Homo sapiens: one gene and its partners. The protein of the gene in region 5 purifies or fractionates together with the protein of the main gene of each other region. This does not show direct contact. Each region holds a gene or a part of one and is shown on either strand. Other genes may lie near its edges.

Evidence for each region.
Region 1: the proteins of AKT2 (region 5) and NIBAN2 fractionate together in Homo sapiens (co-fractionation; one large-scale study listed by BioGRID). This does not show direct contact.
Region 2: the proteins of AKT2 (region 5) and DSTN purify together in Homo sapiens (affinity purification with mass spectrometry; one study listed by BioGRID and IntAct). This does not show direct contact.
Region 3: the proteins of AKT2 (region 5) and AP1G1 purify together in Homo sapiens (affinity purification with mass spectrometry; one large-scale study listed by BioGRID and IntAct). This does not show direct contact.
Region 4: the proteins of AKT2 (region 5) and ERO1A fractionate together in Homo sapiens (co-fractionation; one large-scale study listed by BioGRID). This does not show direct contact.
Region 6: the proteins of AKT2 (region 5) and EIF4EBP1 fractionate together in Homo sapiens (co-fractionation; one large-scale study listed by BioGRID). This does not show direct contact.
Region 7: the proteins of AKT2 (region 5) and LMAN2 purify together in Homo sapiens (affinity purification with mass spectrometry; one study listed by BioGRID and IntAct). This does not show direct contact.

What each region holds. Positions count from the first base shown.
Region 1 is NC_000009.12:127,562,574-127,566,073, forward strand, and holds part of NIBAN2 (protein Niban 2), read right to left. Parts: intron 1-3,500. UniProt on the Homo sapiens protein: May play a role in apoptosis suppression. May promote melanoma cell invasion in vitro.
Region 2 is NC_000020.11:17,601,075-17,604,574, reverse strand, and holds part of DSTN (destrin), read right to left. Parts: intron 21-3,500; coding exon 1-20. UniProt on the Homo sapiens protein: Actin-depolymerizing protein. Severs actin filaments (F-actin) and binds to actin monomers (G-actin). Acts in a pH-independent manner.
Region 3 is NC_000016.10:71,798,835-71,802,334, forward strand, and holds part of AP1G1 (AP-1 complex subunit gamma-1), read right to left. Parts: intron 1-3,500. UniProt on the Homo sapiens protein: Subunit of clathrin-associated adaptor protein complex 1 that plays a role in protein sorting in the late-Golgi/trans-Golgi network (TGN) and/or endosomes.
Region 4 is NC_000014.9:52,689,059-52,692,558, forward strand, and holds part of ERO1A (ERO1-like protein alpha isoform 2 precursor), read right to left. Parts: intron 1-3,500. UniProt on the Homo sapiens protein: Oxidoreductase involved in disulfide bond formation in the endoplasmic reticulum. Efficiently reoxidizes P4HB/PDI, the enzyme catalyzing protein disulfide formation, in order to allow P4HB to sustain additional rounds of disulfide formation.
Region 5 is NC_000019.10:40,243,846-40,247,345, forward strand, and holds part of AKT2 (RAC-beta serine/threonine-protein kinase), read right to left. Parts: intron 1-3,500. UniProt on the Homo sapiens protein: Serine/threonine kinase closely related to AKT1 and AKT3. All 3 enzymes, AKT1, AKT2 and AKT3, are collectively known as AKT kinase.
Region 6 is NC_000008.11:38,037,034-38,040,533, reverse strand, and holds part of EIF4EBP1 (eukaryotic translation initiation factor 4E-binding protein 1), read right to left. Parts: intron 1-3,500. UniProt on the Homo sapiens protein: Repressor of translation initiation that regulates EIF4E activity by preventing its assembly into the eIF4F complex: hypophosphorylated form competes with EIF4G1/EIF4G3 and strongly binds to EIF4E, leading to repress translation.
Region 7 is NC_000005.10:177,334,669-177,338,168, forward strand, and holds part of LMAN2 (vesicular integral-membrane protein VIP36 precursor), read right to left. Parts: intron 3,118-3,500; coding exon 3,038-3,117; intron 2,857-3,037; coding exon 2,695-2,856; intron 2,583-2,694; coding exon 2,468-2,582; intron 1-2,467. UniProt on the Homo sapiens protein: Plays a role as an intracellular lectin in the early secretory pathway. Interacts with N-acetyl-D-galactosamine and high-mannose type glycans and may also bind to O-linked glycans.

The DNA of each region.
Region 1 (3,500 bases), on a different chromosome or scaffold from region 5:
AGTACACAGGCAGCCCCTTCAAGCCCACTAGCCCCGAACGATGCTCAGAGATGGCAGGAAGGAGCCTCCCTCTAAATGCCCAGGTTGGCGGAAGCAGAGCACGGGAAGAGTTGGGCTGGGAGATGAATCGGTCTTCGACAGGGAAGTTGACTGGAGCCAGAAAAGAAACACACACAGTGGCTCTGTTTGCCCCTACAAACCAACATGTGAGAAACAACCTCATGTCCAGCATTAGGGAAAAAGCTGGGAAAGTGACCCTCTGTCCTCAAATGGAATAAAATGCAGCCTTTGGGGATGCTTCCAGGGAGGTTTTAATGACCTGGGAGAGATGTTTACTATAGATCATGTAGTGAAAGAAGCAAGACACAAACTTGAGTCATGGTCCCGGTAAAGTGTAATGATCGACACAGATGGGAAGTACTCCCAGAGGATGAAGTGGTTATCGCAGGACGGCGGGTGAGTGGTTCCTAGTCCTGTTTTTCCGCTTCACTCCTTGGACAGCAGGGAGGGCAGCCATGGCCCCGCGTGGGTTTAGAAAGGTCCCTTTGGCAGCGTGTGTGGGAAGGACTAGAGGCTCCGAGGAGGCTGGAGCAGCTCTGAGTAGGCGAGGCCGGCACTCAGGCCCCAGCAGTGGAAAAGGAACAGAGTCAGGGGGACTAGAGGAGGCTGGATGGAGGGGAAGGCAGGGTCAAAGCCAACAAAAGCATGTTATATAAGACCCAACAGAGAGACAGCATCATCCCCAGACACTTCGCCCCCAGGGGCTGACCCGGACCTTGGCTAAGGGCAGCGGCCCAGGCCCAGGCACTGCTTCCGGCCAGCCTGGTCTCTCTGCAAAGTCCAGGGGAGCAAAGAGGAAGCCACACAGCAGGGTGAGGGGTGGCAGAAGGTGGAACCCCTCCATCCCTTCACTCTTGGCATCTACAGCCACTTCCCAAATGTTGAGAGGTAGATTTTTTTTTTTTTTGAGACAGAGTCTCACTCTGTCACCCAGGCTGGAGTGCAATGGTGCGATCTCGTCTCACTGCAACCTCCACCTCCCGGGTTCAAGCGATTCTTGTGCCGCAGCCTCCCAAGTAGCTGGGACTACAGGCACGCACCACCAGGCCCGGCTAATTTTTTAGTAGAGACGTGGTTTCATCATGTTTGCCAGGCTGGTCTCAAACTCTTGACCTCAGGTGATCTGCCTGCCTGTCTCCCAAAGCGCTGGAATTACAAGCGTGAGTCACCGCGCCCAGCAGAGAGGTAAGTTTTTAAAATCACTTTGGAAAGAAGCATTATTTGTTTTGCTCAATAAATAATTAAGACACCCTTCTTCTCATATCTGGTTGTCAAAAGGATGAAAATGCTCAATGCTAAGGTCCATCTTAGCAGGAGAGTGTCAAACGCCTGCTGCCTTCTTAAAGGCTATGTGTCCATCTATCAAAAGGTGACCCAGGCAGGGCATGGTGGCTCACGCCTATAATCTCAGCAATTTGGCAGGCTGAGGCAGATGTATCACCTGAGGTCAAGAGTTCGAGACCAACTTGACCAATATGGTAAAACCCCATCTCTACTAAAGATACAAAAATTAGCCAGGTGTGGTGGTGGGCACCTGTAGTCCCAGCTACTCAGGAGGCTGAGACAGGAGAATTGCTTGAACCCAGGAGGCGGAGGTTGCAATGAGCCGAGATCATGCCACTGAACTCTAGCCTGGGCAACAAAATGAGACTCTGTATCAAAAAAAAAAAAAAAAGGTGACCCAGGAGTTCCATTTCAGGGCCTCTCTGATACTGGAATATTACAGAGGGTTTGTACCAGCAGGTTCAAGCAGCACTGTGAATACTAGCAAAATAGTGGAAACAACCCAAATGCCCATTCACAGAGGGCTGGGTAGACAAACCATCCATGCACAGAAACGAACTCACCAAGAAAAGAATGAGGTAGTCTTGTGTGTTCTGACACAGAAAGATGTCCACCAATTTACCAAGTGAAAAAAATCAAACCACAGAAGCATAGAGTAATATCTCTTTTTATAGGTTGGGCGTGGTGGCTCATGCCTGTAATCCCAGAACTTTGGGAGGTCGAGGTGGGTGGATCACCTGAGGTCAGGAGTTCAAGACCAGCCTGGCCAACATGGTGAAACCCTGTCTCTACTAAAAATACCAAAATTAGCCGGGCATGGTGGTGCACGCCTGTAATCCCAGCTACTCAGGAGGCTGAGGCAGGAGAATTGCTTGAACCTGGGAGGCGGAGGTTGTAGTGAGCTGAGATCTTGCCACTGCACTCCAGCCTGAGTGAGACGCCATCTCAAAAAAAAAAAAAAAATCTGTTTTTATAAACCAAGCTATTATGAGCATGTACAGAGAGAGGTAGGTTTGGAAATGGTGACACACCACACTTAAGTGACTTCTTCTGGGAAGTGGGATTTAACGGAGAAAGATGGAGGGTGTTTTCATGTTTTATTTTACCCTCCTAAATTGTTTGTACATGTGTTACTTTTGCTCAGGCAATCCTTCCAACTCAGCCTCCCAATTAGCTGGAACCACAGGCGCATACGACAATGCCCGGCTAATTTTTTGTATTTTTACTAGAGACGGGGCTTTGCCATGTTGCCCACGCTGGTCTTGAACTCCCCAGCTCAAGCAATCCGCCCTCCTCAGCCTCCCAAAGTGCTGAGATTACAGGCGTGAGCCACCACGCCTGGCCTGTGCACACATTACTTTTGCAATTAGACAAAATGTTCAGTGGTTGCCTAGATTTAGGAGGGACTAGGAGGAAACAGGAGCGACTACTAAGGAGTAGAGGATTTCTTTCCGGGCTGATGAAAATGCTCCAACATTGATGGTGGCAATGGTTGCGCAATTCTGTGAATATACTAAAAACCGCTGAAGTGTACACTTTAGGTGGCTGAATTGTATGGTAGGTGAATTACGCCTCAATAAAGCTATTATTTTTGGCTGGGCGTGGTGGCTCACGCCTATAATCTTGGCACTTTGGGAGGCTGAGGAGGGTGGATCACCTGAGGTCAGGAGTTCGAGACCAGCCTGACCAATATGGTGAAACCCCCGTCTCTACTAGAAATACCAAAATCAGCCAAGCATGGTGGTGTGTACCTGTAACAGAGGGCTGAAGCAGGAGAATCACTTGAACCCAGGAGGTGGAGGTTGCAGTGGGCTGAGATTGTGCCACTGGACTCCAGCCTGGGACAGAGAGTGAGACTCTGTCTCAAAAAAAAAAAAAAAAAAAAAGATGTTAGTTCATGGGCGGGAAGTTCACACCTGTAATCCTAGCACTTTGGGAGGCCAAGGCTCCCAAAGGAGGATTGGTTGAGCCCAGGAGTTCAAGACCAACCTGGGCAACATAGGGAGACCCTGTCTCTCTCTCTCTCTCTCACACACACACACACACACACACACACACACACAAATTAGCACGGCATGGTGGCGCATGCCTGTAGTCCCAGCTACTTGGGAGGCTGAGGTGGGAGGATCACTTGAGCCCAGGAGGTCGAGGCTGCA
Region 2 (3,500 bases), on a different chromosome or scaffold from region 5:
GAGGTGCTAGTTCTGGTGCCCTAGATAGAAAGATGCCAAAAATGAAAAAAGTGGTTTAGAGAAAGTATAACTTGCAACTTGTTAAACATTTGCTTGTGTAAACATTTGCTGAGAATCCTCAGACTCTCCTGAGATATTTTTTCTTAACTGCACATTTTTTCTACCTCCCCAGCAGCTCAGAGAGGAAATGCTACAGATAGGCATATGCAGAATCACTCAGGTTGACCAGGGTGGGAAAAAAGAAGAGAACCACTGGTGGCAAAAGACAATCACCAATTAAAAATCAGATTACAGTCGCCATAATGAAAGAACCAACACTGAGTACTTCACTGTATAACCCAATTCTTTTTCTTCAGAATATTTTTCATTATTATTAATAAGGGATTGGATTCAGGCTAATATTTACACAAGGTTTTTGACAGTTTTTCTAGTTGGAAAAAAGTTTTAAAATACATAAAAGTACAGAGAATAATCCGTAAGTACGTGTGACCCAGAATTAAATGCTAATATTTTGGCACCTTTGCTTCAGATTGTTTTCTAAAAAAGAATAAATCAAAAACTTAAAAAAAAGGACAAAAAAGAATAAATTACAAATAAAAGTCCTTTTCTTAGACTTCCCCAGTCCCTTCATCTATTCCAATAGCAGGTTTTGATCCCACAGGTACTTGTTTTCTTAGTCTAACATAACAATACATGTTTAATTACAGATCTGGGCATCCACGTTTCAATAATTCTCTGGAAAAAAATATTAAATCCACTTGTATAATCTCATGATTCTAAAGATTTCTAAATGGCAACTCACCAATAATTATGTCTTAACTGTCAATATTATTACTATCTTTTTATATTTATAACATTGGAGCACGTTCTCCCTCTTGAAGGGAAGCGTGTTAGAAGCACAGCATATGTGTCACAGCACCTTCAGCAGCAACACTGAAGAATAAGGATGATTAGTAACGGACAGAAACCCTCCCACTCAGACTGCTTGCACGGAGGTCCTTCTTTCCTCTGTACGCCAACCCATAGGCCCACCTCCATGCCACACTGCTAAAATATCACAGAGAAGATGCAGTACAGTAAGTCCACACTTAACATTGTCAATCAGTTCTTGGAGCCTGTGACTTAAAACAAAATGACATATACCAAAACCAGTATTTTTTTTTCTCAATGTTATAACAAAACTACATTGAAAGAAATGACGTTATTTGAGGACCTGGTGTATGTTGTTTTGCTTAAAGCTGTAGTTTCCAAGAGCCTACTGGAGGTCATTAAGATATTACGGTATAGCTAAATACTTCTGAGCATTTAATAATTCCATTTAGCTGCCATATTTCCAGGACATTCAACAGCCATGAGCACTGGCATGTGGACCTCACCTAGTGTACCCCTTACCCTAGTGAGCAGAGATTCCATTCTTGGGAAAAAGGGCAGTCTGTCTCTCAGAGGCTTATTCCTCCCAATCCTAAGGTCCAGGGAAGGAGGCAGAGCCATCACAACCTCAGGACTGGCAGATGTTTGAGCTACAGGGTGGGTACTTTTTATTTTTTATTTTTTTGAGGCGGAGTCTCGCTCTGTCACCCAGGCTGGAGTGCAGTGGCGTGATCTCAGCTCACTGCAACCTCTGCCTCCCAGATTCAAGCGATTCTCCTGCCTCAGCCTCCCGAGTAGCTGGAACTGCAGGCGTGTGCCACTATGCCCAGTTAATTTTAGTAGAGATGGGGTTGCACCATGTTGGTTGGCCAGGATGGTCTCGATCTCTTGACCTCGTGATCTGCCCACCTCCACCTCCCAAAGTGCTGAGATTACAGGCATGAGTCACTGCGCCCAGCAGAGTGGGTACTTTTGTTATGAAAATAGGTCAGAAACATAAAAAAGCATCAGCTGTTCTGCTTTTATTCTAACCAAATTGTTAAACTACTTTAAGAGCTGCTCCCTGGGCCATGGGCGGAGCTTGTTATAGAAAATGCCTTTAATAAGGTTCTACCTTTTCTTAAGTAACAGTGTAACAGTGCAAAATAAACCACTGCACTAACACTAAATTTCCTTTTCTTCTATTATTTTCCACATTTAAAAAAATAAGAATGCATACTTTTCATAATTACAAAATACATAAAAAGCAGAAAAAATACCTGCAAATTAAGGAAATACCGACCAATTTAAAAGCCTAAACCATTAGCTGGCCTGTCTGCCACTCAGCTGTGAATGCCAGAAGAGGAAGGACTTAACCTGTTTTATTCACAGCTGTTTTCCCAGGCCCTCGCACAATAGCTGGCGTGTAGTAGAAATAAAGTTCAGTAAATGCACCTTCATTCAAATCCTTGTTAATTTTCAGTCTTATGTACCAGCTTCAATGGACTCTAAGCTGCCTGAATACGTGCACCCTGACCTCATATTTGCATTCCTCACAGCAACTTGGTTTAATCAAGTGCAGTAAAAGCTTACTGAAATACAAGTGAGGTGTGACCTCGAGTTATCTTCCTTTTTAAACCACAATCCTCTGCATCTCCTACTCCCATATCCCTTTTACACTCCAAGCTATTGATGGCACATAGCTAAAAGCTAAGTCCCTCCCTGCCTTGCCCTGACTCAGGCCAAAGTATCAAGAGAATCCTTGCCCCTCTAAAAAAAAAAAAAAGAAAAAAATCAGGTAGTGTTACCATTTCTCCCTCCCCTTAGAAACTAAAGAATTCTACTCCTGGCCATATCAAGGAATGCAGTATAATATTCAATAAATGAGGGATCCAGGTGTAACTTTTTTCTAAAGCTTCATCTCAAATACCGACTTGCCTGAAAAGACCAGAATAACTAAACAACATTTCAAGAAAAAGGCCATAAAAATAACTTTATAGCCCTGTTTCACTATCTAAGAGTAACACTGCCCAACAGAGTTTTCTGCAATGATGGAAATGTTCTGTATCTGTGCTACTCAATAAGGTGGCCACTAGTCAGATGTGGCTACTGAGCATTTGAAATGTGGTAATTCATTCAGCTAACAAACTGAATTTTTAATTTTAAATAATTTAAATAGCCACATGTGGCTAGTGACTACACTACTAAACAGTGCAACTGTAGAGCAAATTATAGCAGGGAGGGAATGGTACCAATTTCTTCAAAAGTAGTAGACCACAGAGGCACAAGGAAGGGGTGTAATTTAAAAGAGTAGATAGAAGGCTGGTTCCTGGCATGGCTCGTTGGAAAAGTAGGGTTTTGGCTTATAAGTAAGAAAGTTAAAAGTAGTAGGAAATTTTAGCCTATAAAAGCAGTACATTCAGAGGATGCCTCCTGTCCTTTCCCCATTGAAAAAAAAAACAAAAACGGAGAGTCACATAACAAGTAGATAGAAAATAGTCAAAATTTAGTTTGGGTCCCATAAACATCAGCCCTGGTAACATTATGAAACCTGTAAATAAAAATTAAATGACAACAACTGCAAATAGTTTGAATAAAAATTACTTTGGTGCTGGAACTGGTCTTCCCGAGTGCTAACAAAATGAGTTTTA
Region 3 (3,500 bases), on a different chromosome or scaffold from region 5:
CCGAGATCACACCACTGCACTCTAGCCTGGGCGACAAGGGTGAGACTCTGTCTCCCAGGAAAAAAAAAAAGGATAAATGAAAGACAAGAAAAATACACGTGCCATATAACAAAGAATTAACATTCCATAAGCGCTCCTACAGGAGGAAAAAAAAAGAGAAAGAAAAATGAAGCAAGGACATGAGCAGACAATTCTCGGTAAAGGAAATCCAATGGCTATTATACGTATCAAATAAGGCTAGCCCCAGTAACAGGGAAGTTAAAATTAAGACAAACTGCATGACCCATTTATCATCTAGCAGACTAGTAAAAATTAAACTATGTATTTATACCCAGTGGTTTCATGATATGGAGAAGTTACTGCTATTTGGGATGAAAATTATGATAACCTATTTAGAGAGTAATCTAGCAATAATAATATTTAAAATATATTTCTCTGTTAACCCAGAATTCCCCCTTTGGAGACTACAGAAATAAAAGCATCAGCATATAAGGCGGCATGTACAAGGATATTTATTGTAGCACTTTGTTAAGTGGCAAAAATCTAGAAATGATCTAAATGTCCACAGGAAAATAATAAATTATGGTACATCCACGCTATAAGACACAATAGGACTGTTTAAAGGAACAAGATAGAATTATATTTACTGTGGGCTGAGTGCAGTGGCTCACACCTGTAATCTCAGCACTTTGGGAGGCCACAGGAGGCAGACTGCTCAAGTCCAGGAGTTTGAGACCAGCCTGAGCAATACAGCTATATCTCATCTCTTATTAAAAAACTAATAGGCTGGGAGCGGTGGCTCACACCTGTAATCCCAGCACTTTGGGAGGCCAAGGTAGGCGGATCATGAAGTCAGGAGATCAAGACCATCCTGGCTAACATGGTGAAACCCAATTCTACTAAAAATACAGAAAATTAGCGGGGTGTGGTGACAGGTGCCTGCAGTCCCAGCTACTCGGGAGGCTGATGCAGGAGAATGGCGTGAACCCAGGAAGCAGAGCATGCAGTGAGCCGAGACTGCGCCACTGCACTCCAGCCTTCGTGACAGAGCGAGGTTCCATCTTAAAAATAATAATAATAATAATAATAATAAAAAATTATATTGGCTGGGTGCGGTGGCTCACGCCTGTAACCCCAGCACTTTGGGAGGCCGATGCAGGCAGATTGCTCAAGCCCAGGAGTTCGAGATCAGCCTGAGCAACATAGCAAAATGTCATCTTTTAAAAAAATAATAATAAAGAATTATATTGCCGGGCACGGTGGCTCACGCCTGTAATCCCAGCACTTTGGGAGGCCGAGGCAGGTGGATCACGAGGTCAGGAGATCAAGACCATCCTGGTTAACATGGTGAAACTCTGTCTCTACTAAAAAAAAAAATACAAAAAAATTAGCCGGGTGTGGTGGTGGGCGCCTGTAGTCCCAGCTACTCGGGAGGCTGAGGCAGGAGAATGGCGTGAACCCAGGAGGTGGAGCTTGCAGTGAGCCGAGATCGCACCACTGCACTCTAGCCTGGGTGATAGAGCAAGACTCCCCATCTCAAAAAAAAAAAAAAAAAGAATTATATTGGCCAGGCACGGTGGCTCACACCTGTAATCCTAGCACTTTGGGAGGCCAAGGTGGGAGGATCATGTGAGGTCGGGAGTTCAAAACCAGCCTGACCAACATGGAGAAACCCCCCCGTCTCGGGTCGGGTGCGGGGGCTCACGCCTTTAATCCTAGCACTTTGGGAGGCCAAGGTGGGCAGATCACGAGGTCAGGAGATGGAGACCATCCTGGCTAACATGGTGAAACCCCATCTCTACTAAAAATACAGAACATTAGCCAGGCGTGGTGGTGGGTGCCTGTAGTCCCAGCTACTCGGGAGGCTGACGCAGGAGAATGGCGTGAACCTGGGAGGCAGAACTTGCAGTGAGCTGGGATCGCGCCACTGCACTCCAGCCTGGGCAACACAGCGAGACTCCGTCTCAAAAAAAAAAAAGAAAGAAACCCCATCTCTACTAAAAATACAAACTTAGCGGGGCATGGTGGCACATGTCTGTAATCCCAACTACTCGGGAGGCTGAGGCAGGAGAATCACTTGAACCTGGGAGGCGGAGGTTGCGGTGAGCTGAGATCACGCCATTGCACTCCAGCCTGGGCAGCAAAAGCAAAACTCCGTCTCAAAAAAACAAAACAAAAATGAATTATATTGGCTGGGCGCGGTGGCTCATGCCTGTAATCCCAGCACTTTGGGAGGCCAAGGCAGGCAGATCACTTAAGGTCAGGAGTTTGATACCAGCCAGGCCAACATGGCGAAACCTCATCTCTACTAAAAATACAAAAATTATCTGGGTGTGGTGGCAGGTGCCTATAATCCCAGCTACTCTGAAGTCTGAGGCAGGAGAATCACTGAACCCAGGAGGCGGAGATTCCCACCACCTGGGTGACAGGGTAAGACTCCATCTCAAAAAAAACAAACAAACAAAAAAAAAGAATTATATTTACTGACCATGACATGTTAAAAAAAAAAAAAAGCGTGTCATAGAGTAATATAAATAATATGATCTCTCTTTAGTAAAAACAAAAAATTCCTATGTACACTTACGTGAGTATGTACAGTACTTAACTAAGCATTGAGAGAAATATTGAAGCGTAAATTCATTCATAATCTGTTAAAATTTGGGGTTAAAATTAAGACTGTCATAGAACAGATGATGTAACACTACAGGGTAAACACTATAGGGTAAACATCCCTAATCCAAAATCTGAAATTCTCCAAAACCTGACATTTTTTGATTGTTGACATGATGCTTGAAGAAATGCTCTTCAAGGCCGGGCGCGGTGGGTCACGCCTGTTATCCCAGCAGGGGAGGCTGAGGCGGGCAGATCACAAGGTCAGGAGATCACGACCATCCTGGCTAACATGGTGAAAGCCCGTCTCTACTGAAAATACAAAAAATTAGCCAGGCGTGGTGGCGGGCGCCTGCAGTCCCAGCTACTCTGGAGACTGAGGCAGGAGAATGGCATGAACCCGGGAGGCGGAGCTTGCAGTGAGCCGAGATTGCGCCACTGCACTCCAGCCTGGGCGACAGGGCGAGACTCCGTAACCAAAAAAAAAAAAAAAAAAGAAAAGAAAAAAATGCTCTGCAAGTGTTTCAGATTTTGGATTTTAGGATTAGGGATGTACAAGTGGTGTAACGCAAATATTCCAAAATCTGAAAAAATCCAAAATATGAAACATTTCTGGTCTCAAGCATTTCAGATAAGAGATACTCAATGTGTATTTGGTTGAAAGAGCTAACTTATATAAATGATTATACAGTTGTACAACTCAAAGTAAAAGGAGTTCCATTAGTGTTTTTACAGCTCAAGTTAGTGAACCTATTTAACTAAACCTCAAAACTAAACAACTGAAAAAGTGTTCAGTCTTAAAAGGAAGCAAAAGAAGCGTTTTTTACTTACCTCTTTTTTTTGAGACAGTCTATCTCTGTCACCCAGGCTGGAGTGCAGTGGCACAGTCT
Region 4 (3,500 bases), on a different chromosome or scaffold from region 5:
GACTCTCCTGCCTCAGCCTCCCAAGTAGCTGGGATTACAGGTGCCTGCCACCATGCCCGGCTAATTTTGTATTTTAGCAGACACAGGGTTTCACCATGTTGGTCAGGCTGGTCTCAAACTCCTGACCTCAGGTGATCCACCCGCCTCAGCCTCCCAGAGTGCTGGGATTACAGGCATGAGCCACTGCGCCCGGCCCTCATATACATTTTTTATGAAATACCTTTTAAACATGCTCAAAGTGTGAATTAGGAAAGTGAAAGAAATAAAAGGTATCCAAATAAAAAATACGTAAAATTGTCTCTTTTTGCAGATGACATGATCTTATATATAGAAAATCCTAAAGACTCCACCAGAAAACCATTAGAATAAATTCAGCAAAATTACAAGATACAAAATCAACATACAAAAATCAATTGTGCTTCTATACACTAACAATGAACTATCCAAAAAAAAATTAAGAAAACAATTCTATTTAGAATAGAATGAAAAAGAATAAACTACTTAGGAATAAATTTAACAAGGAGAGGAACGATCAGTATGCTGAAAACTATAAAGCAGTGATTAAAAAAACTGAAGATTACACAAATAAATGGAAAGATATCCCATGTTCATAAATTGAGAGAATTAATATTGTTAAAAAGCCCATACCACCCAAAGTGTTCTGCAGATTCAATGCAATTTCTATCAAAACTCCAATGGCATTTTTCACAAAAATAGAAAAAAAAATTGTAAAATTTGGATGGAACAGCAAAAGACCCCAAGTAGCTACAGCAATTTTGCAAGAACAAACCTGGAAGCAGCCTACTTTGTAATTTCAAATTATATTACAAAGCTACAGTCATCACAACAGTGTTGTATCAGCATAGAAACACATACATAGACCAATGGAAAACAATAGAAAGCCCAGAAATAAACCCACACATGTCTGGCCAACTAATCTTTGACCAAGACCAAACAATGGGAAAGCACAGTCTTGTCAATAAATGGTGGTGGGAAAACTGGATATCCATGTGCAAAAAAATGAAATTGGATCTTTATCTTACAACACACACAAAAGTCAACTAAAAGCTGATTAAAGACTTAAATGTTAGCCCTGAAACACCAAGACTCCTAGAAAAAAACATAGGAGAAAAGCTCCATGACATTAGTCTTGGCAATGATTTTTTATGTGACACCAAGAAGACCAGCAATAAAAGCAAAAATAAGTAAGTGGGACTACATGCAACTAAAATGTTTCTATGTAACAAAGAAACAAGCAACAAAATGAAAAGGCAACCTACAGAATGGGAGAAAATATTTGCAGACCATCTGTCTGACAAGATGTTATTATCCAAAATATAAAAGGAACTCATACAACTCAACAACAAAAAAACAAATAACCCAATTAAAAAATGGGCAAGGGCCGGGCACAGTGGCTCATGTCTATAATCCCAGCACTTTGGGAGGCCAAGGAGGGCAGATCACCTGAGGTCAGGAGTTCAAAATCAGCCTGGCCAACAGGGCAAGGTGGCGGGTGCCTGTAGTCCCAGCTACTTGGGAGGCTGAGGCAGGAGAATCACTTGAACCCAGGAGGCAGAGTTTGCAGTGAGCCAAGATCACGCCACTGCACTCCAGCCTGAGTGACAAAGTGAGACTCTGTCTCAAAAGAAAAAAAAAGGATAAGGACCTTTTATATATCAAAACATTATGTGGTACACCTTAAATATATGCATTTCTTTTTTCTTCTGACACGCAGTTTTGCTCTTGTCATCCAGGCTGGAGTGTGATGGTGCGATCTCACCTCACCACAACCTCTGCCTCCCGGATTCAAGCAATTCTCCTGCCTCAGCCTCCTGAGTAGCTGGGATTACAGGCATGTGCCACCACGCCCAGCTAATTTTGTATTTTTAGTAGAGATGGGGTTTCTTCATGTTGGTCAGACTGGTCTCGAACCCCCAACCTCAGGTGATCCACGTGCCTCAGCCTCCCAAAGTGTTGGAATTACAGGCGTAAGCCACCACACCCAGCCAATATATGCAATTTTTATGTGTCAATAAAGGTGGAGAGAAATACATAAATAAATCAATGTGCTCAAAGTGTGCTTTATTTGGCAAAGAACTTCAGGTGTATTTAATTTTACTGTGTTTTATCACCATAAAAAAATAACATAAAAAGTACTCATCTGTTGACAGAAGTACACTGGGACAAGTCTGTCAATGGAAGCAGGGAAATACCAAAGATTCCACACCAGGTAGTAGGCACCATCCTAAGGACCTAGAACGCTACAGGTCATTTTGGCTTTAAAGACTTAGTCTTGCCGAAACTTTAAATTGTCAAATGACTGGCAACCATCAGGAAAATATTTCTTCCACACAGTTTATTCAGAAAAGCCTGGAATGCAGCACACACATAGAGTCAGTGGACACCTCTCCAGTGTAACCTGTTTCAAAGATCCCTCTGACTAAGTTATAATCCTGGGCTTATTTCCATCCACCACTCAACATATTAGCAAGTGTCTCTCCCACGGCCCAGCCACCAGGCTAACAATTAAAACCATTGTTTCAACTGACCTAACAAGACACTTGACAGGTTAAATCTACTAAATGCGCTCCAAGCTAAAAAAGATCCATTTTTGGAGTATTTATTTTGGACTCTGAGCTACTCTCCCCTTTCATTAGCCTGACAGAGATTTACTGTGCTCAAATAAGCTATCCTGAGTGTTACTAGCACTAGCCATATTAAGATTGATAAAACATCATGAGCAAGTAAGAGTTTACAAACATCGTGAGCCACCATGCCTGGCCTAGGTTGTATATACAATTCTTACATGAGGTTACATATACAGATTTACAAGTCTAAGGCAATTAATCATTCATTTTGAGCAACTAACACTTAAGCACTATTATCAAAGGAACTTACAACATACAGTGAAAATAATTTTAGCAGGATTTGATATCAACTAACAGGCATATGTAGCAACTGACCAAATTCAAAGACTCAGTTGGAGCTATCAACCAATCTGAAAGATCAGTTCCAGAAAACATGCAAATGGCTTGCTAAGCAGAATAATTTTTAAAATATACTCCTGTTGGCATAGTGCTTGCATCTTATAATTTCCCTAGGACTTGTTGAGCACCAATTATTCACCAGGCTCACTTCTTGGAAGTGTCACACCTTTAATTCATTTTTTGATCTCCCAAAAATTGTTCACAGTAGGTTTCAACATATGCTTGATGAATTTAATCTGATTACTTGTAGAGCTCTACACATTTTAATTCAGTGACTTTCTAAGGTCACTGCTCTAGCTCAAATCAGAGCGGACATTCTGTGAACTGAACCCTACTATAAGCCAGGCACCATGCAGCAGTGTGATGATGGATGGGGATGTGGTAACCCAAGGCAGATGTGGTAAGAGGGACAGGCAACAGGAAGAAAAGATAAAACTATTACCAAAACAATCAACGGGACTGTGCAGCTCACTGGATATTGTAAACAGAACCAGAGAAGATTTTAACTTGTAT
Region 5 (3,500 bases):
CAGCCTGGCCAACATAGTAAAACCCAGTCTCTACTAAAAATACAAAAAATTAGCCGGGCGTGGTGACGGGCGCCTGTAATCCCAGCTACTCGGGAGGCTGAGGCAAGAGGATCATTTGAACCCGGGAGGCGGAGGTTGCAGTGAGCCGAGATCGCGCCACTGCACTCCAGCCTGGACAACAGTGCGAGACTCCATCCCAAAATAATAATAAAATAATAATAATAATAATAATAATAATAATAATAATAAAATAAAGAACAATAAACTAGTTCTGTCACTCATGGTTTAGAACTTGCTGAGAAAGAACTGTCTTTGAGCTGGGCTCGGTGGCTCACACCTGCAATCCTGGCACTTTGGGAGACTGAGACGGGACGATGGCTTGCATCCGGAAGTTTGAGACCAGCCTAGGCAACATGGATACCCACTTTGTAGAGACCAAAGATAAAAAATTAGCCAGGTGTGGGGGCACATGCCTGTGGTCTCAGCTACTCAGGGGGCTAAGGTGGGAGAACTGCTTGAGCCCAGGAGGTGGAGGCTGCAGTGAGCCATGATCATACCACTGCAATCAGCTAAAAAAAAAACAAAATAATTTTCTTTGGATACTTACAAACTGTTCTGTCTAATAAGTGAAAATGACCAGAGACCAAAATGAAAAATATATTAGGCTGAATTACACCAAATTGTCCACATCCCCCATTTTTGACCACACTGCAATTAGGTGTTTCAACCCAACGCATTTTGAACCCCCCGTGTATTTTGCTTGTATCTAGAAAATACTCATATGACCAACAAGAAAAATAAAATGTTCACTAAGAATGAGAAAATTCAGAGAGTGTAATCACGCAAATCCCAGTGATTTAAATAAGCCACAGGGAGTGCAGCCAGCCCTTCACAGCATCTTCCAGGATGGCCCCCGCCCCAGGGCAAGTGTCACTGCTCCTGTGTTCCTGAGACACTGGGGCCCCTACCCAAGGTCAGGCAGGGAACAAGTGTGGCTGGGACTGGGCTTCAAAATCCAAGCCGGGACACCCTGCTGGGCTGTATTCCTCCCCAGTCTCGTTTCCTGGTGTACCACGCGAAACTACTTCTATTTCCATCCATCCCACAACGCACCCTCTTCCACATTTTGACACTGCTGGAATGCAGATTAATCTCACAGTTGGGGTCTGTCTTGATTTAACTGGGCACGCCTTTTTCTTGGCACTATATGAAACAGGGTGCCTCCCCAATGACAGCGCCTTCGATTTGATGAAATATCACAGCAGTGTTTAATACACAGGCTGTCGTGAGGTAGAATGCCTGTGAGGCATCTGTGCAATGAGACATTCTGCAGCTGGGGGAAAGATTGAGGCAGGTCTGTATGCTGACTTGGGATGATCTGAGACTTCTTAAGAGAAAAAGGAAGGTGCAGGGATGGGCAAGGTAGCTCACTCATGTAATCCCTGCAATTTAGGAGGCAGAGGCTGGAGGACTGCTTGAGCCCAGGAATTCCAGACCAGCCTAGACAACATAAGAAGACCACGCCTTTATAAAAAATTTCAAAATTAAGGAAGGTGAAGAACAGTATACAGTTCTGTGCTCCTAAGTTAGAAAATAATGAACTTCTGCAGACACATGCTCACATAGGCACAAACATCTCCAGAAGAGAAGTCATGATCCTGGAGCCCTGCCTGCCTCCAAGGGAGGGGAACTGGGAGTCGAAGGAAAGGAACAGCCTCTAATAACAAATGGGAAGCACTTGCTATCATCAACTATCCCTACTCCCACCCATTATGAAGGAGGAACTGGGGCACAGATTGAAAAAACAGATTCCAGAAAAACAGCAGTTGCTCCAGGCTTGGTAGCTGGAATTACAAAAGGCACGCTGCCCTCCCCACCCACTCAGAGACTGGAGTCCCCATAACCCATCTATGTCCACCCCACGGAGGCAGAGATTTCCACCTGCTTTGAACACAGTTCTGCCCCCAGAACTCATGGTGGATACTCAGTAGATACTTGGGTAATGAAAGAGTGAGGCAGCCAAAGTCCAAGTGGCCCCAGGGCCAGGGCGCAGCAGGGCCCAGTGCAGACCCGGGCAGAGCACGCACTGAGCCCTGGTGCACACCCGGGCAGAGCGGTGTTGGCTTCTGCACTCCCTGGCCCAACATCTCAAGCCAGTATTTCTCAACTTGCTTTAACCCATGCCCCCTTAGGAACAAATTACAGCCTAATTCCCAAACCCTACACTAATATTCCTGTTTTTCAAAAAAAAAAAAAAAAAAAAGCAGGGGCCGGGGACAGGGCAGGAGCCCATTCCATGACAGGCTTTTTTCTTTTTTGTTTCTTTTTGTTTTTGGAGACAGAGTCTCGCTTTGCTGCCAGGCTGGAGTGCAGTGGCTCCCAGGTTTAAGCGATTCTCCTGCCTCAGCCTCCAGAGTAGCTGGAACTACAGGCACCCGCCACCATAATTTTTGTATTTTTAGTAGAGACAGGGTTTCACCATGTTGGCCAGGATGGTCTCGATCTCTTGACCTCATGATCTGCCTGCCTCGGTCTCCCCAAGTGCTGGGATTACAGGTGTGAGCTGCTGTGCCCAGCCTTCCATGACATGCTTTATCAGACATAGTTGTCCTCTCACAAATTTTAAATTTTTTTAATGCTGACTCTGAGTAAATGATGGCGGATTGGGAAAAAAAAAATCACAGATCTCCTAAGAGATACAGTGAAGATATTAAAAAGGAAAATATGTCTCTCATATATAAAGATCTTGAGAGACTGTCACGTGAAGATGGCAGATTGCAGACTAAGATGTACAGCGTGGTATCATCTTTGTTTTCAAAGACAGGGGTGGAGAGAACACAGATGGTCCCTCTGTGGAGAGAACCCAAATACATGAAGGATGGCACTGCCACACCACCAGCCCAGAAGCAGCTCTGGGAGGCTACTCCAGATGGGAATCAGGAGCACAGGCCCTGGACCCACCCCAGCTGGGGCTCCAAGAGTGGCTCTGCCACCTGGACCAGCTCAGCCCTCCCAGCTCTCCCCTCCACCAGGGCCTGGGCCTGGGGCTAAGAGGTTGGCGGGCTGTCGGCGCAGAGCACCGCGCGCAGGGCGGGGTGGAAGGGAGGGTGCCGAAGACACTCGCAGGGGCGGGCCTACCCCACCTACCCTGGCTCCCACTGCCCACCCTACAGAAAGCTCCAGAAACCACAGCAATGCAGGAGGTTATCTGGGAGTAACTGGGGCTCGCCTGCTGCCTGACTAGCTTCCGATCCAATTCTAACTGGACCAAAGTTGCAAGGTTGCAGCACTCAGAATTCCAGATGAAAAGCAAGGGCCTCTGTCCAGGATCCTTCTCAAGGGTTTGCAACATGGCGTCTGGGGCAAAGGGGAGCTCCCCATGAAGCTGGGCCTCAAGTATCTTCTAGCCCCCAGAGGAGAGCCCCTGGGTAAACCACGACTGTAAAAATAACAGCACTGAGTGGCTAGCTCCAGACACCACCTCGCTTGATTCTCAAGAG
Region 6 (3,500 bases), on a different chromosome or scaffold from region 5:
AACCCAAAAGATGGAGAACAATAACAAATCGCTGCTGTTTAGTTACTGTTTGGGGATGGCTTGTTATATAGCAATAGCTAACTGATACAACCATTTTCACCAAGTGTCCCTGCACACCTAAGAAGCCCTGATCCTCTGGGCCTAGTATCTGAGCTCTCTTAATGAGCTTTCATGGGCATAACCATCAGATTACATGGAGCCCTTTGCTGTGCATACCCAAATGTCAGTGAGCAGCAGTTACTTACTCTTGCCTTGTCAGCAATGCTGGATGCAAACAGGTAAATAAACAGCATCAGTCACAGTGTCTGAGACCCCGGCCCCAATACTGGCTTGTTCAGTGTAAGAAAAAGTTGCCAGATGCAGTGGCTCACATCTGTAATCCCAATGCTTTGGGAGGTTGAGGCAGGAGGATTGCCTGAGGCCAGGAGTTCAAGACCAGCCTGGGCAACATAGACCTCATCTCTACAAAAAATAAAAATTAGCCAGGTGTGGTAGCATGTGCCTGTGGTCCCAGCTACTCGGGAAGCTGAGGCAGGAAGATTGCTTGAGCCCAGGAGCTCAAAGTTACAGTGAGTGGTGATCGCGCCACTGTACTTCAGCCCATAGACACTCCAGCCTGGGCCACAGAGGTGAGGCCCTATCTGTTAAAAGTTTTTTGTTTTTGCTTTTTAAAAAAAAGAAAAAAAGTCACATCCACTCCCTGTTCGGTAATATTGGGACAAGAAATACCAGCAATACTGTTTAATACAAATGTTCCTTGACTTAAAATGAAGTATGTCCCAATAAATCCACCATACATAGAAAATATCTTAAGTCAAAAATGCATTTAGGGCCAGGTGCAGTGGCTCACGCCTGTAATTCCAGCACTTTGGGAGGCTGAGGCGGGCAGATCACTTGAGGTCAGGAGTTTGAGACCAGCCTGGCCAACATGGTGAAACCCCATCTCTACTAAAAATACAAATTAGCTGGGTGTGGTGGCACACGCCTATAATCCCAGCTACTCAAGAGGCTGAGGCAGGAGAATGGCTTGAACCTGGGAGGCAGAGGCTGTAGTGAGCAGAGATTGCACCACTGCACTCCAGCCTGGGCGATAGAGCAACACTCCAACTCAAAAAAAAAAAAAAAAAAAAAGTATTTAGTACACCTAACCTACTGAACATTATAGCTTAGCCTTCCCTACCTTAAATGTGCTCAGAACACTTACATTAGCCTACAGTTGGACAAAACCACCTGGCAACACAGCACACTATAGACTCTATAGTGGGCTGTCCAATCTTCTGGCTTCCCTGGGCCACACTGGAAGAAGAATTGTCTTGGACTACACATAAAATACACTAACACTGGCTGGGTGTGGTGGCTCACGCCTGTAATCCCAACACTTTGGGAGGACGAGGTGGGCGGATCACCTGAGCTTGGGAGTTCGAGACCAGCCTGACCAATATAGAGAAACACCATTTCTACTAAAAATACAAAATTAGCTGGGTGTGGTTGCGCGTGCCTGTAATCCCAGCTACTCAGGAGGCTGAGGCAGGAGAATCACTTGAACCTGGGAGGCAGAGGTTGCAGTGAGCCGAGATTGTGCCATTGCACTCCAGCTGAGCTTAAAAAAAAAAAAAAAAGAAAGAAATTTCATAATGTTTTAAGGAAGTTTACGGACTTGTATTGGGCCTCATTCAAAGCTGTCCAGAGTGCATGTGGCCTGAGGGTCTCGGGTTGGACAAGCTTGTGACTGGCCATTTGTCCTCATGTTTGTGGGGCTAAATGGGAGCTGCAGCTCACTGTCCCTGCTGAGCATCTCGAGAGCATGTACCTCGTATCGCTGGCCCAGAAACAGATCAAAATTCACAATTCAATGTACAATTTCTAGGCTGGGCGTGGTGGCGCACACCTGTAATCCCAGCTACTTGAGAGACTGAGGTGGGAGGATTGCTTGAGCCTGAGAGGCGGAGGTTGCAGTGAGCCGATATCATGCCAATGCACTCTAATGTAGGTAATAGAACAAGACTCTGCCTTTTTTTTTTTTTTTGAGATGGAGTCTTGCTCTGTCTCCCAGGCTGGAGTGCAGTGGCGTGATCTCGGCTCACTGCAACCTCTGTCTCCCGGGTTCAAGCGATTCTTCTGCCTCAGCCTCCTGAGTAGCTGGGAGTACAGGTGTGTGCCACCACACCTGGCTAATTTTTTGTACTTTTAGTAGAGACGGGGTTTCACCATGTTAGCCAGGATGGTCTCTATCTCTTGACCTCGTGATCCACCCACCTCAGCCTCCCAAAGTGCTGGGATTACAGGCATGAGCCACCGTGTCCGGCCAAGAATCTGTCTTAAAACAATTTTTAAAAGTACAATTCCTACTGAACACATATCACTTTCATACCATCGTAAAGTCAAAAATTGTAGTCACACCATCATAATCGGGGACTATCTGTATGAGGATAAGTAGGAGGGTTCAGAGAAGGTTATTCTCTGGCTGGTCCAGTGGCTCACGCCTGTAATCCCAGTGTTTTGGGAGGCTGAGGTGGTGGATCTCTTGAGCCCAGGAGTTCCAGACCAGCCTGGGCAACATGACAAAACTCTGTCACTACTAAAAATTTAAAGATTAGCCAGGCGTGGTGGTGTGTGCCTGTAGTCCCAGCTACTGGAGAGGCTGAGGCAAAAGGATCACCTGAGCTCAGGGGGTTGAGACTGCAGTGAGGCATGATCGTGCCACTGTACTCCAACCTGCAACAGAGTAAGACTTTGTCTCAAAAAACAAACAAACAAAAAACAGACAACATCATCAAAACAGAGAAAGTTAGTTTCTGCCCCTGGGACATTCTGAGATAAACACTTATACCCTGCAACTGAAAGGACAGAAAAGGAAATTTAAACGTCATCATTAAGCCAGCGGAGACTCAGGCCTGACAGTAAGAAAACTAGGTTATCCTGACCAGGCATGGTAGCTCACGCCTGTAATCCCAGCATTTTGGGAGGTCGAGGCGGGTGGATCACAAGGTCAGGAGATTGAGACCATCCTGGCCAACATGGTAAACCCCGTCTCTACTAAAAATACAAAAATTAGCTGGGTGTGGTGGTGCGTGCCTGTAATCCCAGCTACTCAGGAGGCGAGGCAGGAGAGTCACTTGAACCAGGGAGGTGGAGGTTGCAGTGAGCTGAGATCATGCCACTGCACTCCAGCCTGGGCGACAGAGCAAGACTCAGTCTCAAAAATAAATAAATAAATAAAATAAGAAAACTAGGTTATCCTGAGGGGAACGCTTTCATTCCAGCATTCTTTTCAACTCTTCACCTTCCAGACACTAGACCTGGCATTAGGTCATGTGGATACAAAGATGAGTAAGACTGCTCAGAAAAAATTTCCTGGCTAACCTAGGGAACAAACACGTAAACAAAAACGTGTGATTCATTCGCTATGAATCATAATGGAGAGAGACCCCAGGCATGGGTCTAAGTCAGACCAGAAAGAAACAGGTTTTTCATGGGTTTGTTGGCACAGGCAAGAATCT
Region 7 (3,500 bases), on a different chromosome or scaffold from region 5:
CTCTTTGAGGCTCATGTTCCGCACATGTAGAGGAGTGATGATCTCCATCTGTGTGGTTGCCATGGCAAGTACATGAGAAGGGTCTACACCACACAGAAGATGGCCTGCCTGCAGAATAAGTGCTCAAAAACAGACCCGGGAAAGACCAACAGTCGCTGTGTGACTGGCTGAGAAGGCTGAGGTCCCAAGGGCAGGAGCCACCAGACATTCTTGCCACAGAGACCCACATACAGGCTGCAGGGGAACAACTCGGCAACCAGCTAAGGGCCTGAGCCTAACGCAGGTCAGCAGCTGTGCCTGAGGAGACTGGGGAAAGGCTCTGTCCAATGGCATGCACAGGGAAGAGCCCTGGCTTGACGCTGATGGATCACCCAATTGTAGAGATGAGGAGGCTGAGGCTCAAAGCCGACACGTGGGTCCTGGTCAGCCTGGGACTGGAATCTGAGGAAAGGCCTTGTTGAAGGGAGCAGGAATCTCTGGAGCCAAGGGGGGACCTAATGAGCAAGAGCTCGGCCAGGCACACAGTGTGAGAGCCGAGCATGCACAGCCCTTGGAGACGGCGAGCGGCCCTGCAGGACAAGGACCGGCCCTGGAGTCAGGCCCCAGTTCCCATCTGGGCTCTGCTGCTTCCTGCTCGTATCTTAGGAAAAATCCTTTCAGTTTTCAAACTCCCAATGGTTGAGTAAAAAGGGAACGAGATGGCCATCTGCCTAAAAATACATCAGGTGACATCACCCGTAAGGTGCCTGGCACTGATGACCCCTGACCAGTGGTCAGACACGGCTCCCCTCATGGTGCCTCCTCCACTCTGTGCTGGGCTCTCCCAACAGCTGTGAGAGCTGCCACCGGCCACAGCACTGGTGCTGCTCTGCTCCTATCAAGAACCCTCCAAAGACAAGGGCTGAAACAGTGTGATGAAGTTCCAGGCAACCCGGGGCAGGAGGGAAACCAGCCAGGCGCGAGCTGGAAATGATGAAAGCTGGTTGGCAGGAAGGGTGCTTACCAGACCTCTCTCCTCTGCTGGGTATGTGACTGAAAAACCCCCAAACAATGGATGTTCTGGGGTCTGAGCGGACCCAAGCACTTCCATGCTGAGAGAGGAGGCTCCTGGGCAGTGGGCAGACTACAGGCCCTGGAATGGGTCATCCTGAGGATAAACCGCCCATGTCAGGTCCCCCGTGTCACGTGCCAGTTCTGGTCAGGAGCTGGCCCTGGGCCTGGCACCTGCTCAGGGCCCCAAAGAGAAACCGAGAACCACAGCCAAGGGCCACCACGGCCTGGTGACCAGTGAGGCCTGAGCAGGTTAGAGGCACCCCAGTGCTCGCTGAGCACCTGCCCTGGGCCAAACAGCCATTTATAGAGCTTACAATTGAGCAGGAGGGCCAGAGACAATAAAATTAATTACTCGGTAGACTCAAAGATGGTAAATATTATGAAGAAAAATAAAGCCAGCAAAGATGCTGGGGAGTGGGCTGGGGACACAGGAGGGGGCACGACATTCCACGAGGGCATCAGGGAAGGCCGCACTGAGGAGGTAACATCTGAGCAAGGCCCTAGGAGACAAGGGTGAAACAGCCGGGGCAGGAGGGCACAGGCGCATCCAGGCAGCAGCTGGAAGCCACAGTAGGCAGGGGGAGCAGTGAGCAGGGAGCCAGAGGTGGCAGGGCTGGCACAGAGGCCCTGGCGCCCCCTGCAGAGCTCTGCGCAGAGCAGCAGGAGGCCTCACACGGGCTGAAGGCGATTACTGAAGGCGATTACACGGCTGCTGTGCTCACGAGAGACTGTTGGGGGCTGGTGAAGGAGGGGACCACTTGGGAGACTCCTGTGAGAGACACTGGTGGCCTGAAGCCGCCAGGTAGTCAGGGAGGGGAGGGAAGTGGTGAGACGTGCTGTGAAAATAAAGCCACAGGGACTGTTGATGGACCAGAGGTGCCATGTGAGAGAAAGAAGGGTCCGGAAAGACAGCAAGCAAATAGAGGGGCACAGGTGCCACTGACATCCCGATGGGCAAGATGTGGCCTCAGCTGTGGGCACAAGGGCTGAGCAGGTCCAGAGCGGTCTGGGCTGGAGATAAATCTGGGAATCTACATTGCCCAAATCTAACTGACCCGCTGCCTCCTGTTGATGGGGAAGGTTGCCAAGGGACCGTTCAAGGCCTGAGGCCCGGACAGGCCATTTACAGAAGAAAGGAGGAGGAGGAACACAGCCAGGTGAGCTCAGAAACCACAGGAACTGAGGCCCGGACAGGCCATTTACAGAAGAAAGGAGGAGGAGGAACACAGCCAGGTGAGCCCAGAAACCACAGGAACTGAGGCCCGGACAGGCCATTTACAGAAGAAAGGAGGAGGAGGAACACAGCCAGGTGAGCTCAGAAACCACATGAAGGCAGGCAATCAACTGCATGGAAAGCTCCCAGTCCCTCAGGGTGAGCTGGGCTGGGAACCAACGCCTGGCCCGGCCCACTCACCAGACAGGTCGCCGGTGCCGGCGGAGGCCCCGAAGTAGTAGCCGGTGGGCAGGCGCACTCCCGTGATGTCAATGCAGTTCTTCCACTCGTTCTTGTCCTCCAGGTCGGTCATCACCTGCAGGGCCCAGCACGCTAAGCACCTCGCAGGACAGCAGCCTGCCCTCCTGAGCCTCTGTGGGACCAGCACAGGGCCACCAGCTGCCACCCCCACCGCCTAGCCTGCTCACCGTCAGACGGCCCCGGGAGTAGCGCACAGCCAGGAAGGTGTCGTGATCGCGGTTGCGGAAGTCAGCCGTGCAGCCCGCCAGCTCGGTCCAGCGCCCATCCTTGCTGTGGTCGTAGGACAGGGAGCCATTGTTCACCATCACCGAGATGTACGGGAACACGCGCTGGGACCAAGACATCGGTTACTCCACAAGCAGCCCAGCCTGTGGGGCGAGCAGGGGCACCCACCACCCCAATCCCTGGAGGCTCCTCTTGTGCTGGGACCATGGAAGTCCCAGGGCCCCCTCCTCTAGCCGACTGCCCAGTCCTTCCTTTCCTGCTCAGCAGGATAGAGCAGGGGCCTACCTCAGTGGTCTCATCATTGGGGTAGGTGTCCAGGAAGATGGCTAAGCCGTGGAAGTTATCTTTGCTTCCAAACACAGGCCCTAGAATTATAAGCAGATGCTCTCAGAATGGGAGAAACAGGAGCCGTCCCATGGGTACCTAAAAGGCAAGCAATGCCAACATGGGTGGGGGCAAGAGAGCCCAACCCACTGGCCATTCACCGAGAGAGAAGGGATCGTGAAAGGAGAAAGCTGAGGCTTTCTCCTCAGAAGTGGGGGGTCTAGGCATATGACACAGAGGACTCAAGTTTGAAGGCTGAACTGTGAGGGGACTGAGGCAGATGTCAGGTGTCAAGGGGGTACCTGGCCTACAAAAAACAGTGAGCCACAGGACAGCCCTACCCAGGAGGCTCTACCCTCTATACTAGGGGCAGCAAACATTCTGTGAAGAGCCACCAAGGAAACACCTCAGGGTCTGTGGGCCA